Linked DNA regions of Homo sapiens: regions 2 and 3 are each linked to region 1. The links come from fine-mapping of genetic effects on gene expression. A gene starts in region 1. Each other region holds a variant in brackets. All regions are shown on one strand. Distances are between the middles of the regions.

Region 1 (8,026 bases):
ATACATTGTAAAGCACAACATAAATGTATGATTTTATAAAGATCTAAGAAAGAAAAAAATGTAATGGGGGAAATAGCAAAAGCATACTGAGGGGTTTGTCTTACAAATCAGAAGGTATCTTTATTTATCTTAGGTAAAAGGAAAGAAAGGGAAAACTAGTCTTTATGAGGCATGTAGTTCAAATATGATTCTTTTCCCCACAGGGAATTGATACAAATTTGCTTATTGTTTTTTCAAACTTATTTTGGTTTTTCTTTTATACTTTATCCTTATCTGACAACCAGATGCTCCCAAACAAATATTCAATACTATTACTTTTATCTGGGCATATCAAATTACAATTCACTTATTTAAGTGGTTCTAAGCTATCATCTATATGCTCCTTTATGCTCATAGGGCATTCTCACATTCTTGAATAGTTTCTTCATACTAAGCTGTCAATTCATATACTTATTTGTGTATGTATCCATACCCCTCAGAGGAATTTCATCAACTGCCATTATGATTATATTTACAATCCTACTGTTAACGACAAGCATCAAATCTTTCATGAACTTGAACTATTTGAATAATTTTCATTCTTTTTCCTCTAAGTAATATCAGTTTACGGCTATAGTTATCTAATTTCGTGTTGCCCTATATTCTAAGATAAATCAGATTACTTTTTCCACTTTTCTCTAACCATGACTATGTACGATGTAAGCTTATAAAACTACCTCATTTAGTGGTAAGTTGAAAAGGAAAGCAGAAGGGAAAATAGAGATAGCAAGTTAATGCTCCCAGTTGTATAAATATCTTCCTCTTCCTTCCTTTGTCCCTTCATTTCTCAATGTTCATTTCAATTTCTACTGCTAGAGCAGCTTCAAAACATCCTAACATTCTTCAACTGATCATCCATCACCAAACACAGCACAGTACTTACCTGGCCCGATGTTAAAGCTATAAAATGAGGTAAGCCCTACTCTCGAAGCACTTGTAGACTAGAGGAAGAGACCACCTTGCCAATAAACATGTTTCTAGGGCCCTAGAAACAATTACAAATACAACACAAATATCAAAGTTCATAAATACCAAAAAAGAGGTACTCAGTATTATAAAAGCATAAAATTTTTAAAAAGAGTACCATCTGGTACAACTAAGGATAGTAGCATAAAAAAGGAGAAACAAGCTAGAAAGCAGTTTACAAAAGCTCAGATATTTTGTTTTTAGGATATCAAATGCGTAGTAACCAATTTACTATCCTTTGATGAACTGCATCTTAATCAGAATTATATCGGAAAAAAGTTTAGTGTGAAAAAGCGTACTCCCTTGGAATATCTTCAAAGCTTTCCCTCATTACCTCAATGCACAAATATCTCTACCCACTATCCATCTGTCCTTCCTCTCCACTACTCAACTATCCTAGCACTTTGTCTTAGTTGACATTCATTAAAATATGTAAAGTGCGTTCTACATTTTGAAGAACTTATAAAAGATATGGGAATGATTATAAGGCCCTACCTTCCATATTCCTTAAGAACAGTTTCCTTTAACCCCTACTGTGACTTGCAGAGTAGATGCTCAATGAGTATTTGATTTAAAAAAATCTCTGGTGACACAATGAGAATTACATATTACATTAACATTACGTATCTCATAAAAGCTAAATTACAAAGTTCTTCAGCATTATAAGCTACACATAAAGAAGTGATAATGTAGTGATTATGAGCAAACAATTCTTTAGCATTACCACTTATACATGAAGAAATGACAGAGTGTAGTGGTTAAGAGCACAGACATGGAAGACAAACTGTCTGACATCTAATCTAGACCTGTCACTTAATTAACTATGTGACGTTGAGCAAACTACATAAGGTCTCAGGGTCTCAATTTTCTCAACTACAAAATAGGGATAAAGTATTATCTCCTCGCTCACTCTGAGAGTAAATGAGTATAAAGCTTACACCAGGACTTCGCTTGATAAGCACTAGACTTAAAAGTAACTGTAGTAGCAATGCTGGTATCACCGTCTTCAGAAAACTTGGATATTTTTAAACCAGAAATACAAATGGTAACACTTGTCATCTGTGTGCCTCCTTATAGTTACAAAGCTCTTTAATAGAAGGTGCAGACCAGGAATGTAAGAAACAAAAGCACTACGTTCCATTTTGGGCAGTCGGATACAGTTTTTAATACCGGCTCTGTCACTGGCCAGCTGTACGACCACCTACAACTAAGTAACCATAGACAAATTATCGCAACTTTCTAAGCCTCCATTTCCTGACTTGTAAAATTTGATAAACCACCTATATCCCGGGAATGTCCAGAGGACTGAGGAGTCAAGGTATCGAAAACAAGCACACACAGTGCCTTGCACACAATCAAGCTCACACTGGTTCCTTCTCCCCTTCCCCACATCTCTAATGGAGTATGTTATTAAATCCTCATCTTACCATTATGAAGTTCATATTAGGTTGAAACATAAAAAACAGCAGAATATTAGCAATTTCAACCTAATAGTATTTCCACTGACAAATGGAGAAAATAAGCTCAAACAGGTTAAATGTTTTACTCAAGGTTTTATGCACAGTAAGTGATGGAGCTGAACATTAAATAATTTTTCATTCAGCCAGCTCACTAATTTGTTCACTGACTCCTGTTGAGGAGGAAAAAAGTATAGTAACTACTATAATGCATATAAAACTACTGTAATCTACAAAGTATTTTTTCGTGCCATATTTAAAAAATGAGGGGGTGAAACATTTCTAAGAACCTTTCCATTTTAAAAATTATTTGTAGAGGATGTGTGTGTTGGGGGAGGATGAGAGTTTAGACAAAATCAAAGGTAAAGAATATTAAAGGAAACATATGGATAACTGCACTAATTCAAAAAGTACAATAGGATCTATTCAGAAATCCCACAAAGCAGCTAAACATTAAATGGCCATCCTGGTGAAAGATTACAAGTATTCAGTACCACAGATGAGTTGTTTACCAAACACAGAAGGAAGAGTTGTATCAAACACTTTGGTTCACAAAGGTATACATTAATATGTAACATTACTGTAATGGAAAAAAATGCAATGGCTTTTCATTTAATAGTTAAAAAATGGACTACTTAATTGTATAACTGTTTATTTCTATAAATTCCACAAGGGCTTTAGGATTAGATCACATAAGCCGCATCTGGAATACACTGTCTGTCCAAACATGAAAAGTCCTATCAAAATGCACAGTACTAGTAAATAAATAACAAATGATAACAGAACAAGGCCCCATAAAACTGGTGAAATATTTAACAGTATCAAATATTTACTACGATTGGTCTACAACCCTATTCTGCCTCTTTTCTCCTTGATTTGTCATTCAGCACTGGAAGAAAAAAAAACCTTCATGAACAACAAAATGAGAAAAAGGATAATGAACAAGAACTGGGTCTTTCAACTGATTTACAATGGAACAGTTTTGTTGTAATCCTCTTATGGGCCCCTCCTCCAATTATGCAATCATTCCACTGCAAGAGATTACAAGGCTTTTAACCCGACACTGAACGGAAGGAGTTGGGGTGAAACAGGAGAGTGTATAACAGGTAGCCTCCGAACAGGCAACATTTCCATGAAACTAAATTGCCTCTCAGTAATCAGTACTAACTAACTCAGCGCTCGTGTCTTTCAAGACCTTACCCTTTCATCTTTTTTAATCCCATAACAACCGGCAACTCTTCACATGCTGCGACTTCCACCCAGCATCATCACTTCTGGAGCCAGTAAGCTCGCGCTTCCTGGGCGGTCGGGGCGAGTTGTCAACGCTGGGAGGGCAGAGCCATGCAATCCCACCCGTGCAGTTCGTCTCAACTCCCCCGAACACAAGTCTGGCGGCACGGAGCTGCCTACTTGGGCGCGACTCCGGGCGCCTGCCCGGAATTTCCCACCAGGTTTCACCGAAACCTCCCGAGGGTGACCTCTACGCCTCAGCACGGTGCCTCGCGCGTAGTTTCCTAAGACTGGGACACGAAACCACCCCAGGTCCACAGCCCTGCCGCGCGGCGTCCGGTGTTGTGAGCTGCTTCCGACTTGTTCGGGAACTCTCTCTTCATCCTCTTCGCGACCGCGGCCCTCCGCTCCCGGCCGCGCCCGCCCGCCGCCAGGTAACCCGCTGGACTCGGGCTCCCTGCCCCGGGCGCGCGGGACCGCGCAGTTAATGTGTAACGCGCCCGTGCCCGGGGGAGGAGCCGCCGCCCGACGCCCACCAGCAGCCCAGGGGGCGGCCGGCTGACCCGGGTCGCCAAAGTCCCCCCCACACGCCGCCCCCAAGGGCCCGGAGCCCAAGTGCCCAGGCGGAGAGCGAGCTCACCGGGCCTGGGCATCCCCCCGAACCCCCGCGTGCCGCGCCCTGCACGGCGCCAGCACCTGCACCTGCCGCGGCCGCCCCTCCTGGCCGACTCGCCAGAGGCGGGCGCGCGGGCGCCGAGGGGGGCGGTGCTCTACGCTCCGGGCCTCTCCCTCCCGCGGCCGCACTCACCTGAAGAACCCACCGCGGCCGCTGCCGGCGCTCAGGGGCGCTCACAGAGCCGCAGAGAGCGCGTCCCGAAGCAGCGAGAAACGGAGGAGGACGGCGAGCCCTTTCCGCTACACTCCACGGCGGCGGGCTCACTACGCCGGCAGCCGCCGAGGGAACGCGGGACTGCGCCTGCGCCGGAAGCGGGGCCGGGGGCCGGGAGCCGGGAGCGGCCGGTCCTCACGGAGGGAGGGCGGGGTAGGGGGGTGTGGCCGGCAGGGGCGGGGCGAGCCCGGCATGGGGCCTGGGGGCGGACGCGCTTCCGCGCCCCCTGGCGCCAGGCGGGGCTCGTCGCAGGTGTCACGGCCCTGGCCCGAGGTTCCTCCGCGGGCGGTTTCCCTGGGAACCAGCGCGAGCCGGAGCTGCGCTCTGTTTCGTCGGGCCCGCGCTCTGTTTCGTCGGGCCCGCGCTCTGTTTCGCCGGGCCCGAGAGGCGGCCTCAGGTTAACTTCAAGCATGTTGGGCTCTCCAGGAGGGAGAAGAGGCACCTTTGCCGTGGGTTGAGGACTCCTAGAACCAACCTGAGACTCCGCGGCCATATACACCTTACGACGTGTGTGTGTGTGGCGGGAGATGGGAGGGGAGGAATCCTGTAGAACCCAGATCCCATCATTCCAGCAACTGCCAGAGCGTTCGAGAATGTCATGTCTGTACCTGTCTTCTCTCATCTTTTGTGCCAACTGTTTTATCAAACTTCTACCCCACTTTAGGTCTTCCAGGTAGGAAAAATACAGAAAGAGCCAAGATCCCAAAAATCAAAAAAAAATAATAATAATAGAGGTAGTCATAGTATGTGTCTCTATGTTTAGCAAAAGAGAAACGTGCATTTGTGTGATACACTTATTGAATAGGACCATCATTCTGGGTATTAATCTCATCTATTAGAGGCAGTAAAGAAAAGTAGACTATATGTATGGTTGTTGGAGTCAGAATTACTGGGCTTGAGCCTGCCACCTGCTAGCTGAGTGACCTTAGGCAAATGAATCTCTCTAGCCCCAATTTTCTCATCAGTGAATGAGTATACAGAACCTGCCTCACTGAGTCATTAAGAGTTTAAATGGCTTAATTCATGTAAACACTTTGCGTACTTCATGACACAGAGTGCCTAATAAATATTAGCTATTGTTATTATACCATTATAACTATTATCATGCATCTGTAATCCAGAAACCTAGAAAGCCAGTGTTTCTTATTTTATACCCCATCGCCAATATATCACCAAGTCTTATTCATCCTAATTTCTAAATAATTCTTAAATCTATCTTATCTGATATTCATTGCCACTAGAAATGACCTTTCTCATTAATGGATTCCTATTCTCCCTTACACCTCATAGCTGGTCATTTATTCATCAGACATTTTATTGCACTCCATCTGTGTGCCTCCTGTTAGACATAGGGACAGAGAAACCATTACAAAGTCCCCACCATCCACGGACTCAAACATATATAGGGAGACAAGTATGTCAATAGTAGCTACGTGAAATGAATAAATTAAATATACAGCAAACCACTTAGGCTCCCCAGTCTTGCCGTACTCACATACAACCCTGTATTTCCATATGCTGTTTATTTTTATGTCTTGATCTCCTACCTTTTCCTTGCCTTGCTAATTATTTGTTATTCATTATTTAGCCTAGACATCAATTCCACTGTGAACCCTTCCCTATTGTTGGCCACTCAGCCCTATCCCAGCCACTCCAGTATGGGCTAAGTGCCCCTACCAGGGCTTCCATAACACCGTATCTCTTTGTAACACTTATCACATAGAGTTATAATTGTATCTGTATTTCTCCATTTTCCTGGACTGCGAGCTTCTTGAGAACAGGCACAAGGTCTGACATGCAGTAGGACTGACTCAGTAAATGCAGAATGAGTGAATGGCATGCATGCAGAGTGCAGTCTTGGTATGTGAATGTTTAGAGGACAAGTCCTATGATATATTCTACATAAGACCTAAGACATCATGATCTATAGGAAATAGTAAGCAGTAACCATATATGCCTGAGTCCTGCGTTGGTCCATTTACAAATCACCTACCATCCATGAGGCTTTTTGAAATATACTGAAAGATGTTCCTCTTGAATACTTAACCTGTTAGCGCTGTTTGAGAAGAGTGATATAGATTGTTACCTATAATAATACTTCAGTGTTCTTGCAGCACAGAGACCAAGATACATTACAGAATATTAGACACTCAGAATCTCAGCCTACAAAGTATGTAAAGGGCTGTGAGCATCTTAAGTTTGATAGCTTACCCATATATAAAAAGGACAGCTATTTCACAAAATTTAAAAATGTGAAAGATTTGGATGGGCACGGTGGCTCATGCCTGTAATCCCAGCACTTTGGGAAGCCAAGGTGGGCAGATCCTTGAGGTAAGGAGTTCGAGACCAGCCTGGCCAACGTGGTGAATCCCCATCTCTACCAAAAAAAAAAAAAAAAATCAGCTGTGCATGGTGGCACACACCTGTAGTCCCAGCTACTTGGAAGGCTGAGGTGGGAGAATCACTTGAACCCGGGAGGCGGAGGCTGCAGTGAGCCGAAATCACGCCACTGCACTCCAGCCTGGGCGACAGAGTGACACCCTGTCTCAAAAGAACAAAACAAAAGGCCGCACGCGGTGGCTCACACCTGTAATCACAGCACTTTGGGAGGCTGAGGTGGGCAGATCACCTGAGGTCAGGAGTTCAAGACTAGTCTGGCCAACATGGTGAAACCCCATTTCTACCAAAAACATAAAAAATTAGTCGGGCATGGTGGCTGGCACCTGTAATCCCAGCTACTCGGGAGGCTGAGGCAGGAGAATCACTTGAACCTTGAATCACTTGAACTCGGGAGGCAGAGGTTGCAGTGAGCCGATCGCGCCATTGCACTCCAGCCTGGGTGACAAGAGTGAGACTCCATCTCAAAAAAAAAAAAAAAAGAGTGAAAGATTTTATAGTGTGCTCAAGGTTGCCTTTTTCTCTTTATTTTTTTCTCTTTATTTTTTAAAAATGTAAATTATACAATTAGTGTCAAATATAACGTATAAAATAATATTGCTTTTTTTTTATCTTAAGACTTTCTCATTTATACCTTGGGCCAGAAAAAAAGCAGATGAGTGCAAATATATAGACATTGTAAATTGAACAAACCATTCTAAGGTTGTTACCCTTAGTTATAACTTTTATTACTTGTTTGCCTCTGTTTTGTTTTCAGAGTTAAGAAAATGTATTTTCATGGTATTTTCCAGTTGCAAACTGACTTCATGTTAATGATTACATGAGTCTTGTACAAAAAACAATTTGATGCAGGTGGAAAGGTAGTTATTCTTCATTTTTGTGGATGGGGAGCTTAGGCCACCAGAGTTAGGGCCCTGGTGTTTGGAATGCAGGTTAATATCTTATAAACGAATGAAGTGAAAACATATTGAACTTTTGTGTCCAGTAGTATGGCAGACTAGAGGCTCTGGCTGATTCTCAAACCCAAAGCAATATATATAAATATATA
Region 2 (8,026 bases), 70 kb before region 1:
TTTTATCAGCGTGACTAACTTCTCCATAGAATTAAGATTCACTGCTTTACATGATTGAAAGATGGTAGGCTTCTACCAGTGTTTAAGCAAGATAATATTTTCAGTGCCTAAAAAATATAAACAGGGAAATTTTGTAAAACTTTAAATACTAACTGGCACAGACTTGTCCCTAGCCTAGTATCTGCTATTTTTTTTTTTAAACTATCATTTGTGCTCGAGAGATACTGCTTTGGAGCTGTCAGGCCATATTAGTTTTCATGCCTGATATTTAAGATATTTAGCTATAAAATTGTATTAAAAATATTAACACACTTTCATGAGGTTGGTTCTCCTGGATATATCACCTGCACATTTCTGCTGATTTAGAATATGGCAATCTTTATTCCATTCAGAATTATCCTCATGACTGCTTTATTAATTCACACGCAAAAAGTAGAAAATACAGGGAAAACTTAATTTTGAGCTCCATGATGGTTTCCATCAATTAAAATAAATCTGACCACTTTGCTGGCCTACTCATTTTCATCTCTTAAAGAGTCAATTCAATGAGCTTAGAACTCTCTTCTCATTTACCATCTGGTTTATCATATACCCCTTATGAGTTAAAACTGACCCTGCTTAAAATTCAAAATTAAGAGTAAAATGAGGCAAATAAAATAATTAAACACAATATTTTTCTAAAAGACATTTGTTCCCAAATTCTCCACAAATTTTATTAGAACTATAGAAGGGATTCAATATAAATGTACCAACAATAAAGCTGATATGAGCATTACTACTATTCTATACTTTTTGTTGAACTTTACTTATACTTTTTGCTGAACTTTTATGTAAAGACTTATATTGAATCAAGAACACTCACCATCCTGCTGTTTCACGAGTCCCTGCTGAATGTATCGAATGTATGTAAAAAAGTTACATACAGAAGTGATCTAGGCCAAATGGAGAAAATGTCATGAATGGTCAAATGTCCCATATCAAAGCAAGCTTTATTAAAATTCATGGTTAAGTCACTTACCCTGTATCTGCAAAAAGGAGAAATATAATAATAGTTGCTTGAGTCCCCTAATTTAATTCTGTGTTTACAGGACTTACTCTGGCCAGTGAGAGCACATTTTCTGTGAAATAATGATAAATTTCAGTTTTTTGAAATGAAAAGCATTTGCCCCTACCTTCTGTACAAGTTGCCTATTCATTCAGTTAGATAACAAATATTTGAGAACCTACTGTGTACCAGGCACCGTTCTAGATGCTGGGCTAAAGTGATGAAAAGGACAAAGTCTCTGCCCTTGTGAGACTTACATTCTATTAGTAGTATAAGTTTAATGCCATAACATTAACCATGATTCTAGAAACAGAAACTAGGTGTTTTCCATGTATGTCCCATCTTGGAACAAATTTACAAATCAGTAATCAGCTGCAGGACAGCTCTCAGCTTTCCATCAGGATTTCAGCTTCTCAGCTGAAAATATCCTCATGATGACTGTTCAAGTCTCAAAGCATGTTATTGATAGCTTGCAGGGTAATAGTTTCCAGATGGGGTATTTGTTTATTTGGTTGGTTGGTTGCTCTATATGCATTTAATGTGGGACCTAGGGAGAAGTACAAAGGAATAAGCCACCTTATAAAAATACTGAATCTTAACAATCATGTAACAAGTTCACTGAATTTCACATGATCCTTTCTATTTGCATATGACAAAAGCTAAAATTTTATATGAGGGCTTTCTGGCTGGGATTAGGCTATCAACCTCTTGAGGGCAGGGACTTTGATTCATCTTTAAATGCCTGGCACACAGCACACATTCAATGACTGCTGAATAAGTAATGAGCCATCTGTTACCCTATGGCTCCATGAGATAAAGCTAGCATGTCTATCAGGCCGGACTTGCAGCAGCCCAGCTGTCACCCTAAGCTAGGAACCTGGCTCAATACAACTATCACTCCCCATCAATGCAAAATTAGCATAGCTCTAAGTAAGTGGCAAACAGCATTTTATATGACAGTATAAATTATATAGTAAATATATTAAATAACATTACATTTTAGCGATACAAGAAATATAATACAAAAGTGCCTTTGTATTAAGAAAACACACAACAATGTGTATTTGAAACAGGATAATTTTTGAGGAGGGGGCAATTCAAATCACAAATCAATTCCTGTCTTTTTTCAAATAGATATTTCTTCATTGTTTCTTTATTAGCAAATTCCTTTAATGATCTGTAACAATATTTAAAAGCACTAACTACTAGCTTGGGGAGGATAGAAGATACAGAAATTTAAAGCACAAAGTGTTGGAAGTCTGTGGAACTTCCAAAAGTATAATTTGCATAAGAGGAAAATGTGCCATTAAGCTGCTAAAAACCAATTTATACACTATTCTTCTGGAAACAGACATATGCCTGCTGGTCTACTGTTTAGCCTAATTTTGAAAGGGATCTGGTAAGGTGGCTTTAAGTATCAACTTTTAAAATAATAAGTGTTTCTTTTTTTTAACTTGTAAGTTCAGGAGTACAACTGCAGGGTGTGCAGGTTTATTACATAGGTAAACATGTGTCATGCGGGTTTGTTGTATATATTATTTCATCACCCTGGGTGATTCAGGAAGAATAAGTATCCATTATTCTTCCTGATCTTCTCCCTCTTCCCATCCTCCACCCTTCCACAAGCGGCAGTGTGTGTTGTTCCCTTCTATGTGTCCATGTGTTCTCATCATTTAGCTCCCACTTATAAGGGAGAACAGGCAGCATGTGGTTTTCTGCTCCTACATTAGGTTGCTAAGGATAACGGCCTCCAGCTCCAGCCATGTCCCTGCAAAGGACATGATCTCATTCTTTTTTATGGCTGTATAGTATTCCATGGTGTATAGCGTTTCTTAAAAGATCTCATTTCTAAGCTATTTTGTAAACTGGACACACCTAATGTATTTTTAGTTAAGCCAGGATTCAATGCAAACAGACCTCTGACCTCCAACTCCATTTTTTTCCCAAACATGCTACACTACATTAATAAATCTCTATAACTCTAGTCCCAAGATTTCAAATCCTTGTTTCCCATTTTCATGTGAGGATGTCAATATGTCTAAATCTAGACCGTAATCCTCTTCCACAAATCAAAGCCTTTTCCATTAATTTCCACAATCACTTCAAATCAGTCTTCCAGTCAGATATCTCTAACTCCTTTCTCCTTTACCCATCCCCCCACCCCAATCTAACTTTTCTTTCTTAAAATGTCACATCTTCCCTTTCCTCTCCATACACTGACCATCCTTT[G/C]AACGCACTTTGATTTGTTTCTAGGCCTTCAGTTGTTATGTATTGCTCTTTATCCAAATTACCCTTATGCTTCAAAAACCTAAACCAGTTTTTATTTCTGGAGGGTGGAGCCAAGATGGCCGAATAGGAACAGCTCCAGTCTACAGCTCCCAGCGTGAGCCACACAGAAGACGGGTGATTTCTGCATTTCCAGCTAAGCTTTGAAGAGAGCAGTGGTTCTCCCAGCACGCAGCTTGAGATCTGAGAACAGGCAGACTGCCTCCTCAAGTGGCTCCCTGACCCCCGAGTAGCCTAACTGGGAGGCACCCCCCAGTAGGGGCGGACTGACACCTCACACTGCCGGGTACTCCTCTGAGACAAAACTTCCAGAGGAACGATCAGGCAGCAGCATTTGCGGTTCAGCACTATCTGCTGTTCTGCAGCCACCACTGCTGATACCTAGGCAAACAGGGTCCGGAGTGGACCTCCAGTAAACTCCAACAGACCTGCAGCTGAGGGTCCTGACTGTTAGAAGGAAAACTAACAAACAGAAAGGACATCTGCACCAAAAACCCATCTGTACGTCACCATCATCAAAGAACAAAGGTAGATAAAACCACAAAGATGGGGAAAAAACAGAGCAGAAAAACCGGAAACTCTAAAAATCAGAGCGCCTCTCCTCCTCCAAAGGAACGCAGCTCCTCACCAGCAACGGAACAAAGCTGGATGGAGAATGACTTTGACGAGTTGAGAGAGAAAGGCTTCAGAAGATCAAACTCTCTGAGCTAAAGGAGGAAGTTCGAACCAATGGCAAAGAAGTTAAAAACCTTGAAAAAAATTAGACGAATGGATAACTAGAATAACCCATGCAGAGAAGTCCTTAAAGGACCTGATGGAGCTGAAAACCATGGCATGAGAACTACGTGACGAATGCACAAGCCTCAGTAACCGATGCAATCAACTGGAAGAAAGGGTATCAGTGATGGAAGACAAAATGAATGAAATGAAGCGTGAAGAGAAGTTTAGAGAAAAAAGAATAAAAAGAAATGAACAAAGCCTGCAAGAAATATGGGACTATGTGAAAAGACCAAATTTACGTCTGATTGGTGTACCTGAAAGTGACGGGGAGAATGGAACCAAGTTGGAAAACACTCTGCAGGATATTATCCAGGAGAACTTCCCCAATCTAGCAAGGCAGGCCAACATTCAAATTCAGGAAATACAGAGAATGCTACAAAGATACTCCTCGAGCAGAGCAACTCCAAGACACATAATTGTCAGATTCACCAAAGTTGAAATAAAGGAAAAAATGTTAAGGGCAGCCAGAGAGAAAGGTCGGGTTACCCACAAAGGGAAGCCCATCAGACTAACAGCTGATCTCTCGGCAGAAACTCTAGAAGCCAGAAGAGAGTGAGGGCCAATATTCAACATTCTTAAAGAAAATAATTTTCAACCCAGAATTTCATATCCAGCCAAACTAAGCTTCATAAGTGAAGGAGAAATAAAATACTTTACAGACAAGCAAATGCTGAGAGATTTTGTCACCACCAGGCCTGCCCTAAAAGAGCTCCTGAAGGAAGCACTAAACATGGAAAGGAACAACCGGTACCAGCCACTGCAAAAACATGCCAAATTGTAAAGACCATCAAGGCTAGGAAGAAACTGCATCAACTAATGAGCAAAATAACCAGCTAACATCATAATGACAGGATCAAATTCACACATAACAATATTAACCTTAAATGTAAATGGGCTAAATGCTCCAATTAAAAGACACAGACTGGCAAATTGGATAAAGAGTCAAGACCCATCAGTATGCTGTATTCAGGAAACCCATCTCATGTGCAGAAACACACATAGGCTCAAAATAAAGGGATGGAGGAAGATCTACCAAGCAAATGGAAAACAAAAAAAGGCAGGGGTTGTAATCCTAGTCTCGGATAAAACAGACTTTAAACCAACAAAGATCAAAAGAGACAAGACCATTACATAATGGTAAAGGGATCAATTCAACAAGAAGAACTAACTATCCTAAATATATATGCACCCAATACAGGAGCACCCAGATTCATAAAGCAAGTCCTTAGTGACCTACAAAGAGACTTAGACTCCCAAACAATAATAATGGGAGACTTTAACACCCCACTGTCAACAACCCCACTGTGTCAACACAGATCAACGAGACAGAAAGTTAACAAAGATATCCAGGAATTGAACTCAGCTCTGCACCAAGCAGACCTAATAGACATCTACAGAACTCTCCACCCCAAATCAACAGAATATACATTCTTTTCAGCACCACACCACACCTATTCCAAAGTTGACCACATAGTTGGAAGTAAAGCACACCTCAGCAAATGTAAAAGAACAGAAATTATAACAAACTGTCTCTCAGACCACAGTGCAATCAAACTAGAACTCAGGATTAAGAAACTCACTCACAACTGCTCAACTACATGGAAACTGAACTACCTGCTCCTGAATGACTACTGGGTACATAACAAAATGAAGGCAGAAATAAAGATGTTCTTTGAAACCAACGAGAACAAAGACACAACATACCAGAATCTCTGGGACGCATTCAAAGCAGTGTGTAGAGGGAAATTTATAGCACTAAATGCCCACAAGAGAAAGCAGGAAAGATCTAAAATTGACACCCTAACATCACAATTGAAAGAACTAGAGATCTGCCTGGCCAACCCGTCTGGGAGGTGAGGAGCGCCTCCGCCCGGCCGCCCCATCTGGGAGGTGAGGAGCGTCTCCGCCCGGCCGCCCCGTCTGGGAGGTGAGGAGCGCCTCCGCACGGCCGCCCCGTCTGGGAGGTGAGGAGCGCCTCTGCCTGGCTGCCCATCATCTGGGAGGTGAGGAGCGCCTCTGCCCAGCCGCCCCATCTGGGAAGTGAGCACCTCTGCCCGGCCGCCCCATCTAGGAAGTGAGGAGCGCCTCTGCCCGGCCGCCCATCGTCTGGGATGTGAGGAGCACCTCTGCCCGGCCACCCTTCGTCTGGGAGGTAAGGAGCGCCTCTGCCCGGCCGCCCCATCTAGGAAGCGAGCGCCTCTGTCCGGCCGCCCTGTCTGAGAGGTGAGGAGCGTCTCTGCCCAGCCACCCTGTCTGGGAGGTGAGGAGTGCCTCTGCCCGGCCGCCCGTCGTCTGGGAAGTGAGGAGCGCCTCTGCCCAGCCGTCCTGTCTGGGATGTGAGGAGCGCCTCCGCCCGGCCGCCCCGTCTGGGAGGTGAGGGGCGCCTCTTCCCGGCCGCCCCGTCAGGGAGGTGGGAAGCGCCTCTGCCCTGCCGCCCTGTCTGGGAGGTGAAGAGCGCCTCTGCCCGGCCGCCCCGTCTGGGAGGTGAGGAGCGCCTCTGCCCGGCTGCCCCGTCTGGGAGGTGAGGAGCGCCTCTGCACGGCTGCCCCGTCTGAGAGGTGAGGAGAGCCTCTGCCTGGCCGCCCACTGTCTGGGATGTGAGGAGCTCCTCTGCCCGGCCACCCCGTCTGGGAAGTGAGGAGCACCTCTGCCCGGCCGCCCCGTCTGGGAGGTGTACCCAACAGCTCCGAAGAGACAGCGACCGTCGAGAACAGGCCATGATGACGATGGCGGTTTTGTTGAAAAGAAAAGGGGGAAATGTGGGGAAAAGAAAGAGAGATCAGATTGTTACTGTGTCTGTCTAGAAAGAAGTAGACATAGGAGACTCCATTTTGTTCTGGACTAAGAAAAATTCTTCTGCCTTGGGATGCTGTTAATCTATAACCTTACCCCCAACCCCGTGCTCTCTGAAACATGTGCTGTGTCAACTCAGGGTTAAATGGATTAAGGGCAGTGCAAGATGTGCTTTGTTAAACAGATGCTTAAAGGCTGCATGCTCATTAAGAGTCATCACCACTCCCTAATCTCAAGTACCCAGGGACACAAACACTGCGGAAGGCCACAGGGACCTCTGTCTAGGAAAACCAGAGACCTTTGTTCACGTGTTTATCTGCTGACCATCTCTCCACTATTATCCTATGACACTGCCACATACCCCCTCCAAGAAACACCCAAGAATGATCAATAAATACTAAAAAAAAAAAAAAAAAAAAAACTAGAGAAGCAAGAGCAAACACATTCAAAAGCTAGCAGAAGGCAAGAAATAACTAAGATCAGAGCAGAACTGAAGGAAATAGAGACGCAAAAAACCCTTCAAAAAAATCAATGAATCCAGGAGCTGGTTTTTTGAAAAGATCAACAAAACTGATAGACCGCTAGCAAGACTAATAAAGAAGAAAAGAGAGAAGAATCAAATAGGTGCAATAAAAAATGATAAAGGGGATATCACCACTGCTCCCACAGAAATACAAACTACCATCAGAGAATACTATAAACACCTCTATGCAAATAAACTAGAAAATCTAGAAGAAATGGATAAATTCCTCGACACATACACTCTCCCAAGACTAAACCAGGAAGAAGTTGAATCTCTGAATAGACCAATAACAGGATCTGAAATTGAGGCAATAATTAATAGCTTACCAACCAAAAAAAGTCCAGACCAGATGGATTCACAGCCGAATTCTACCAGAGGCACAAGGAGGAGCTGGTACCATTCCTTCTGAAACTATTCCAATAAATAGAAAAAGAGGGAATCCTCCCTAACACATTTTATGAGGCCAGCATCATCCTGATACCAAAGCCGGGCAGAGACATAACAAAAAAAGAGAATTTTAGACCAATATCCTTGATGAACATTGATGCAAAAATCCTCAATAAAATACTGGCAAACCGAATCCAGCAACACATCAAAAA
Region 3 (8,026 bases), 57 kb before region 1:
ACTAAAATGAAAAAAAATTACCTCACTTTTTGAGAATGTTAAACATGGAAAGATATCTTCCTGGTAGATTTTGTCTAAGAAAGGACACGTCCTGTCCATTGTGGGCTCATCCTTCCACAATCGGAATTCATTATACAAGGATAAGTCAGCCTAACAAACCAAAGGAAAACACAAAAACATGTTTTAAAACGTATAAACATAAAAACCGCTTTACAAAACCAAAACTAATTTAAACATCACTGAAAAAAAGCTCTTCATTTAAAATAATAAATTGAACCACTCTTGGTGGTTCAATACCTGGTAGCAGTTTTCCTTTTTAAAAAATACTCTCAAATAATACCTGGTAGCATAATACCTGGTAGCAGTTTTCCTTTTTAAAAAATGACTCTCAAATAACCAATTAGCCTTTTTCCAAGCATCATTCACTACCATGTTCAATAACACTACTATTATCCTCACTCTGAGCTCCTTCTCCCATCCCCACCAAAAATGCTGGAGTTCCTCTTAAGACACAGGTGGCACACTATTCAGAATATAATAAATGATGACAAGTCTTTTCTGAAAACAATAAAAAGGTAATTTGGAACCTAATTAATTATAGTGTCTGAATAAACTGAGACTGGCTGAACTGTGAAACCTAGTTTGGGATCAAAAATGACACTAATTGTTCTACTATAACTTGAAGGCATTCCAAAAAGAATTGTCAAAATGTTATTGCATAACCAACAGGATTAAAAAAAAAGAATACGTAAAGCCTTCTAAACTACCTTAAAATACAACATTTATTTAGATATTTTTGACATATTTTTGGCACCCAGTAACTACCATCTTAGGCATCAATAATAATCCACTGCTGGCACCTGCCTTCCTATTCACTCCTCCAGCTATCCCTCTCTTTCTCACCTCCCTAATAAATTTTCCCCAAGTATTCTTCCCTACAGATTCTCAGATTCCCTCAGTCCAGCTCAATAGCATCTGCTGGAATACAAAGTTGCACTGACATCAGCCACCCAAACTAGAGCAGTCTCCCCCATCCTACAGCTCTAAGCTGCTCTTCTCCAGAGGCACTGGATACACCATAAATGATGCACTGACTACAGCTACAGACTGCCTCTAGGATAGCTCAATCAGATGTGCAAGTAGTCTACAAAAATGTAACATAGAGCTGAGTGTAGCCAAGCCTTCCTACAGACTTCCTTTTAAGGTGTATAAGGGCAATCTCCATGTGAATATTTTTTTCAGCCCAATTCATAAATTCCTTGAATCAAAGCAAAAGCAACAGGATAAATAATATTAGCATATAAGCAATACTTACATTTTCAAATGCATTTTCTTTGTAAAGTTACTGAGAAAAAGGACACTTCCTCAATTCCATTTATCTTCTAAATAAGACTCTTTAATCTTTGTTCCTAATTCACTTACCTCCTGGCTCTAATAAGAGATGTCACATCTCCAATTTAACAGTCTGTTTAATATTAACTTCTCAAATGTATTTGTTCCCAACATATATTGATTTATATGAGCACACACTAATGACCTAAGTCTGTTACTCTTTCTTAAGAAAGATGCAAATTTATTCCCTATTTAATAAATGGTGCTGGGAAAACTGGCTAGCCCTATGTAGAAAGCTGAAATTGGATCCCTTCCTTATACCTTATACAAAAATCAATTCAAGATGGATTAAAGACTTAAATGTTAGACCTAAAACCATAAAAACCCTAGAAGAAAACCTATGCAATACCATTCAGGACATAGGCATGGGCAAGGACTTCATGTCTAAAACACCAAAAGCAATGGCAACAAAAGACAAAATTGACAAATGGGATCTAATTAAACTAAAGAGCCTCTGCACAGCAAAAGAAACTACCATCAGAGTGAACAGGCAACCTACAAAATGGGAGAAAATTTTCGCAACCTACTCATCTGACAAAGGGCTAATATCCAGAATCTACAATGAACTCAAACAAATTTACAAGAAAAAAACAAACAACCCCATCAAAAAGTGGGCGAAGGACATGAACAGACACTTCTCAAACGAAGACATTTATGCAGCCAAAAAACACATGAAAAAATGCTCACCATCACTGGCCATCAGAGAAATGCAAATCAAAACCACAATGAGATACCATCTCACACCAGTTACAATGGCAATCATTAAAAAGTCAGGAAACAACAGGTGCTGGAGAGGATGTAGAGGAATAGGAACACTTTTACACTGTTGGTGGGACTGTAAACTAGTTCAACCATTGTGGAAGTCAGTGTGGTGATTCCTCAGGGACCTAGAACTAGAAATACCATTTGACCCAGCCATCCCATTACTGGGTATATACCCAAAGGACTATAAATCATGCTGCTATAAAGACACACGCACACGTATGTTTATTGCGGCATTATTCACAATAGCAAAGACGTGGAACCAACCCAAATGTCCAACAATGATAGACTGGATTAAGAAAATGTGGCACATATACACCATGGAATACTATGTAGCCATAAAAAATGATGAGTTCATGTCCTTTGTAGGGACATGGATGAAACTGGAAATCATCATTCTCAGTAAACTATCGCAAGAACAAAAAACCAAACACCATATATTCTCACTCATAGGTGGGAATTGAACAAGGAGAACACATGGACACAGGAAGGGGAACATCACACTCTGGGGACTGTTGTGGGGTGGGGGGATGGGGTAGGGATAGCATTGGGAGATATACCTAATGCTAGATGACGAGTTAGTGGGTGCAGGGCACCAGCATGGCACATGTATACATCTGTAACTAACCTGCACATTGTGCACATGTACCCTAAAACTTAAAGTATAACAATAATTAAAAAAAAAAGAAAGATGCAAATTTATTAAAAAAAAAAAAAAAAAAAAAAAGAAAGAAAAGAAAAAGGACATAAACCCCAAAGCAGGTAAGTGGTATTCTAAGGAAAGATTCTAGTTTAAAGGCTGTAATTTAAACCATTTATTAAGAGCTGACTCTGCCAGGAACCACCGTAAGCACTTTACAAGCATTTAATCCTCACAACTGTGCAAGACAGATATTATGATTGCCATTTGTAATTTGCCGGAGATTGCATAGCAAGAAAGCAGTAAAGTCCGAATTCAAATCTAAGTGGCTTGATCCCAAAGCCTTGCACTGGGCATGTATGTCTGCATGCATGCATGTGTATTTTAAATGTTTACAGAAGACATGTTGCTAATGTCATAACTGAGTGCCCCATCATATTTTCTACAAAAACAC[G/A]GACATGCTTAATTTTCTTCCAGATTGTTACATATTTTTCTAAGACTTACACAGGTCAAATTTATGTAATTCCTTTGCCTAGTAAGACTTTTTGACAAGTTTTTCATGAAACATCAGACTATAACACGTACCTGAAGAGCAAAGGTTATTATTTTGAAGTTATATGCTGCCTATGCACATTTTAAGGGATTTCAAAAACTAAAAATGAATCTTTACCATGTTCCATGAGAAGACACTTATAATTTTGTTAGTGTAAATAGGGGGGAAAGTACATAATTACTTACACATACTGAGTAAGAAACACCAAAAATACAAGTTGTACCAGGCAATTAAAATTGCTATTTAAATTCCAAAGAATTAGAATTAAAGTTAGGACAAAGAAGTTTCTTAAATATTTAACAGAAACCAATGTGAATTTTGGATTTGGTTACATTCAGATTTAACCAAGTATTGAACTTCTCTCTTACCAGCATCATTTTTATTGATAATTCGTCAAAATGCAATTCAATTAAAACAGGTTAACATTGGTTATTCCATTTAATAAACTCCTGGCTTCCATACAAAAATTTAACAAGCACACACATTTCTTCAAGATTAATGATGGACTTGAATTTAACAATGTAAAAGATGGCTTCTAAGAAGAAATGGGAAAGCTTCATAAATTATTGATCAATCCTCTTAGAAATGCATTCTCACAGTATACAATGATTAAAAATTTTTACTCTAAACAGCTCAAAATATTTATATATTATTTCAGTTATCTTTGTAACATATCTTTTAAAATAAGACTATTATTATTATTATGATTTTGAGACAGAGTTTCGCTCTTGTTGCCCAGGCTGGAGTGTGATGGCGCAATCTCAGCTGACCGCAACCTCCGCCTCCCAGGTTCAAGGGATTCTCCTGCCTCAGCCTCCTGAGTAGCTGGGATTATAAGCATGAGATACCATGCCCAGCTAATTTTATATTTTTAGTACAGATAGGGTTTCTCCATGTTGGTCAGGCTGGTCTCGAACTCCCAACCTCAGGTGATCCTCCGGCCTTGGCCTCCCAAAGTGCTGAGATTACAGGCATGAGCCACCATGCCCGGCCCATTATTTCGTTTTTAAATTTTTAATTGTTATGGATACATGATAATGGTGGCCTTACATAGTTGTAAGTGTCTGAATAACAGACTGGCTGAACTGTGAAACCTAATTTGGGATCAAAAATGACACTAATTGTTCTACTATAACTTGAAATTTCACTTAGCAAAATGTCTTCCAGCCTTATGTCATTGTAAGGCTACCATTATTTCTATTTTTTTGTTGCTTAATTATCTAAATTAACTCTAGGACTCCCTTGCTGACATAAAATTCTCTCTGAATTTAAATAAAAGCAATGTATTGATCTTTAAGAAAATCATCTTATTTTCACATATTTCTTATATCCATACTTTGTAAGCGCACTCTAGCAATAAATTTTGACTAGCCAGATCATTAAAGCCACCCACTCTCCTCTAGACAACACATGACAGTTTCCTCCCTTAATGAAATACTGAGATTAAGAAACTTACCAAGTTTCCAGCAGGTACTCCAAGGTCAGCCAGGTAGAAAATGGAACTGAAGAATCCCTGAAAGCAGCCAGCTCTAGATAAAGCCTCCCCCATCTTAATACTGCATTATTTTGTACTAAAAATTTTGCTGGCAAAAATGATAACTGACACCTCAGTGATGAGAACTAACAAGTATCAACAGAGTCAGAGGGGACAGTCCTTGATGAGTTACCTCTTTGCAGTCTTTTACAATTGGCTGTATCACACTGAGGTCCTGATGACTGCCACTCATAGCACTGCTTGTGCTTTTATTTCTTGTATGCCCCTTTTTAAAAGGTGTCTTTCCACCTGGCAAAGGCTCCTGCGTAGGTGATGTTGGAGAACTGGACAATACAAGTGTCTTCAATGCAGCTACTTCAGCTTGAAGTACATCAATCTTGGAAAGAAATCAACATAGTCACATACATTAAATACGTTTCATGACATATGCAGCTAAATATTAGCAATCTGGTCAAAACACTTTCAAAGATGAAAAGTAAGTTTAATTTGTATTTCCTGTGGAGTAATAAAAAGAAACTAAAATCAAGTTTTTTGATGTTTCCATATGGTTTGGATTCATCTATTATTAACAACGTCAAATGAGCCTGTGAAAATTACCAAAATATCTAACATTTATGTGAATTTTCAAAATCCTCAAAATATAATAGCTTATGATTAGTTGTAGAAGTTCACTCCTAAAACAGTAAAATCTAATAACATTTAGGTGGCTTTTCTCAGTGAATTTAAAAACTAAGTATTAACATTAAAATGTGATTCTATAATCCTTTGGATAATTCATGTGATTTACAAGGTTTTAAATCATTTGGTTCTCATATAAATGGACACGAAATGTTTACTATTAATTATACCTACATAGTAGCTATTTTCTTCTATTTTTCTGTAGTTTCCAAATTGAAAACAAGCACTACTTTACGATCAGAACAAAATCCAACAGATGTTAAGGTATCTTTAAAACAGTTATCACAAATTTATTTTATACTATTAAGAGCTGCAAAAACTCACTTTTCCTTGTGCTTCTTTTAGCTGTTTTTCTGCTGTTGCCTGCTTGATATTTGCTTCTCTCACCATTTTATGAGCTTCCTGAAAAAGTTAACATCTCAAATTTTAGAAACAAAGTAGCATTTGTTTTCAAAAAGTTCTTGCCAAATGTTTACAATTGAAGCAAAGATATACTACCAAAAGTTAGCCTGAAGTTAAGTATTCAATGTCAACTATGGAAGCAGCAGTTGACAACAGAGACAAACTATGAGACATTAGGAATAGGTGCCTTCTTTTAGGACCTATTACCACTGAGGCAGCCAAGTTGAGATCAATCATCCGGATAGATACTTGCGTAAGGACTGTGAATGTGACGAAGGCAAACAATGACCAATGTGTCAAAGCCAACTCCTTTGCAGTCAGCTTTTTATAATGTGGTCACTATATATGTTCTTATTAGTCAAAGCAAAGACATACAGGAGGGACAAGTAAAAACATTAACACACCAATAATGTTGCAGTTTATAGTAATGACAGCTAAGAAGCCTTAGAGCTTTCAATAAAAACATTCCCAAAATTTTATTATGTGACAATTTTGTGAAGAGCAACCTAAAAAGGCAAATCAGTTTACCCTTTAATAGAGTTTTAATCTTCTAGTACCACAAATATGAAACTCTAGGTATTTAATTCCTTTTTATTCATATAATGTTTATTCATGAGACATTTACTCATGTCATCTCCTTGTGAGGTACTGCTCCAGATGCTGATTACGTACTGGGAAAGGACAAAGTCCCTGCTCTTAAGGAGCTTACATTCTGTTTATATGTATTAACCAAATAAAACATCGGAATAAGAATTGTGGGTTTTATTCTAAATGCAATATGAAGCCTTACAGTTTTTTTAAGGAAGACATGATCATTTTATTTTTAAAAGATTATGCCCTTGTATAGAATAATCCCTGTAAGGGATTAAGAATGGACTGGAAGCATATATAGGGTGCTTGAGATAGTGCCCCGAGATTTAAGAACTTACATTTTAGAACTTTAGTTTACAATTTATCAGAGGAAGGAAGGAAATGAGCTTCAAAGATATTTAATGAATAGTTTGACAATGGCACCCTCACTAGATCTGTCAAAATGCACAGTGGTAGAATGGAAAGGTGGAAGTTCTTTACATCAGAGTTTGACTGTTTGTTTCCCGTTTGTTCATTAGCTTTTACAGTATTGTAACACTGCAGTTTGTGTGTGCCCATGAATGTGAATTTGCAGCTTATACTAGTTTAAATAGGAGAATCTTTACTATCAATGATTTATAGCAAAATGATATTAACCATGAAGATATTCCATGCACTATTATTCTGGCTATCTTGGCAAAGTCCTTAAGAGCTGTCAAATTTAATGAGTTAAATATTCTCCTTTTAAAAATAACAAATGTTTCAGATTTGCTGAATTTTTCTGGGACAAGTGGCTGTCAACACAAAACTATCTGGCAATGTTTTAAAAATAATAAACACAGCTAATCTGACCCTTCAAGATAAGTAACATTTTAACTTTAAATGAAAAAGTAATTCATACTATGGAGAGAATAGTTGACTAAATTTTTGGAAATGGACTCTGTTTTCATTAATAGTGGATTATGCAATTTGTACCAAACCTCCAACGGAGAACGATTAGAAAAGCTAGAAAAGTTTTTTGTTTGTTTTTAAAATATGTTTGAAGGTATCTGAGAACAAAATAGTGAAGTAAACTTAGAGTAATGTGAAATTTTAGGTGACTTTTCCACTACAGACATAAGGGTTACAGTGAAAAGGTATAACATACATATAATTGGAGCCCCAAAAGGAAAGATGAGCACTAGACTGGGGCAGGATCAGTTGCTAAAAAGATGACATGCAGAATTTTTACAGAATTTTTTAAAAATTGACAAAAAACATCAAAAGGTAGACTCAAAAAAAGTTTGAAAATTTTCCATCACACTGCCCTTCCAAAGCTGAAAATGATGTAAGTATCACCTATACCAGGAGTCGGTAAACTTTTTCTGTAAAGAGTCAAACACTATGTATACATATACAGCCTCAGCTGCAACTCCTCAGCTCTGCTGTTGCAATATGAAAGCAGCCATAGACAATACACAAATTAGTGTGGCTGTTTTAATAAATATTTATGAACACTGAAATATACATATCATTTTGTTTTTCTTTTAGCATA

What was found.
Region 2: its variant is fine-mapped to the expression of RAB3IP in whole blood (TOPMed, PIP above 0.99).
Region 3: its variant is fine-mapped to the expression of RAB3IP in unexposed skin (GTEx, PIP above 0.99).

Annotation. Positions count from the first base shown.
Region 1 is chr12:69,735,506-69,743,531 of GRCh38, reverse strand. RAB3IP (RAB3A interacting protein) reads right to left here and starts at 4,672. Exons shown (of 11, transcript NM_022456.5): 1 at 4,501-4,672. LOC101928002 (a long non-coding RNA gene) reads left to right here and starts at 4,982. Exons shown (of 4, transcript NR_110072.2): 1 at 4,982-5,254. RefSeq lists a silencer at 4,095-4,924.
Region 2 is chr12:69,805,870-69,813,895 of GRCh38, reverse strand. It overlaps RAB3IP (RAB3A interacting protein), which reads right to left. Exons shown (of 11, transcript NM_022456.5): 9 at 1,019-1,118; 10 at 863-932. Among named protein-coding and RNA genes, the nearest start is that of MYRFL, 15 kb to the left of the region's middle. The variant G/C (reference allele first, on the strand shown) is at 3,275.
Region 3 is chr12:69,792,333-69,800,358 of GRCh38, reverse strand. It overlaps RAB3IP (RAB3A interacting protein), which reads right to left. Exons shown (of 11, transcript NM_022456.5): 5 at 5,845-5,922; 6 at 5,015-5,218; 7 at 22-150. Among named protein-coding and RNA genes, the nearest start is that of MYRFL, 29 kb to the left of the region's middle. The variant G/A (reference allele first, on the strand shown) is at 3,249.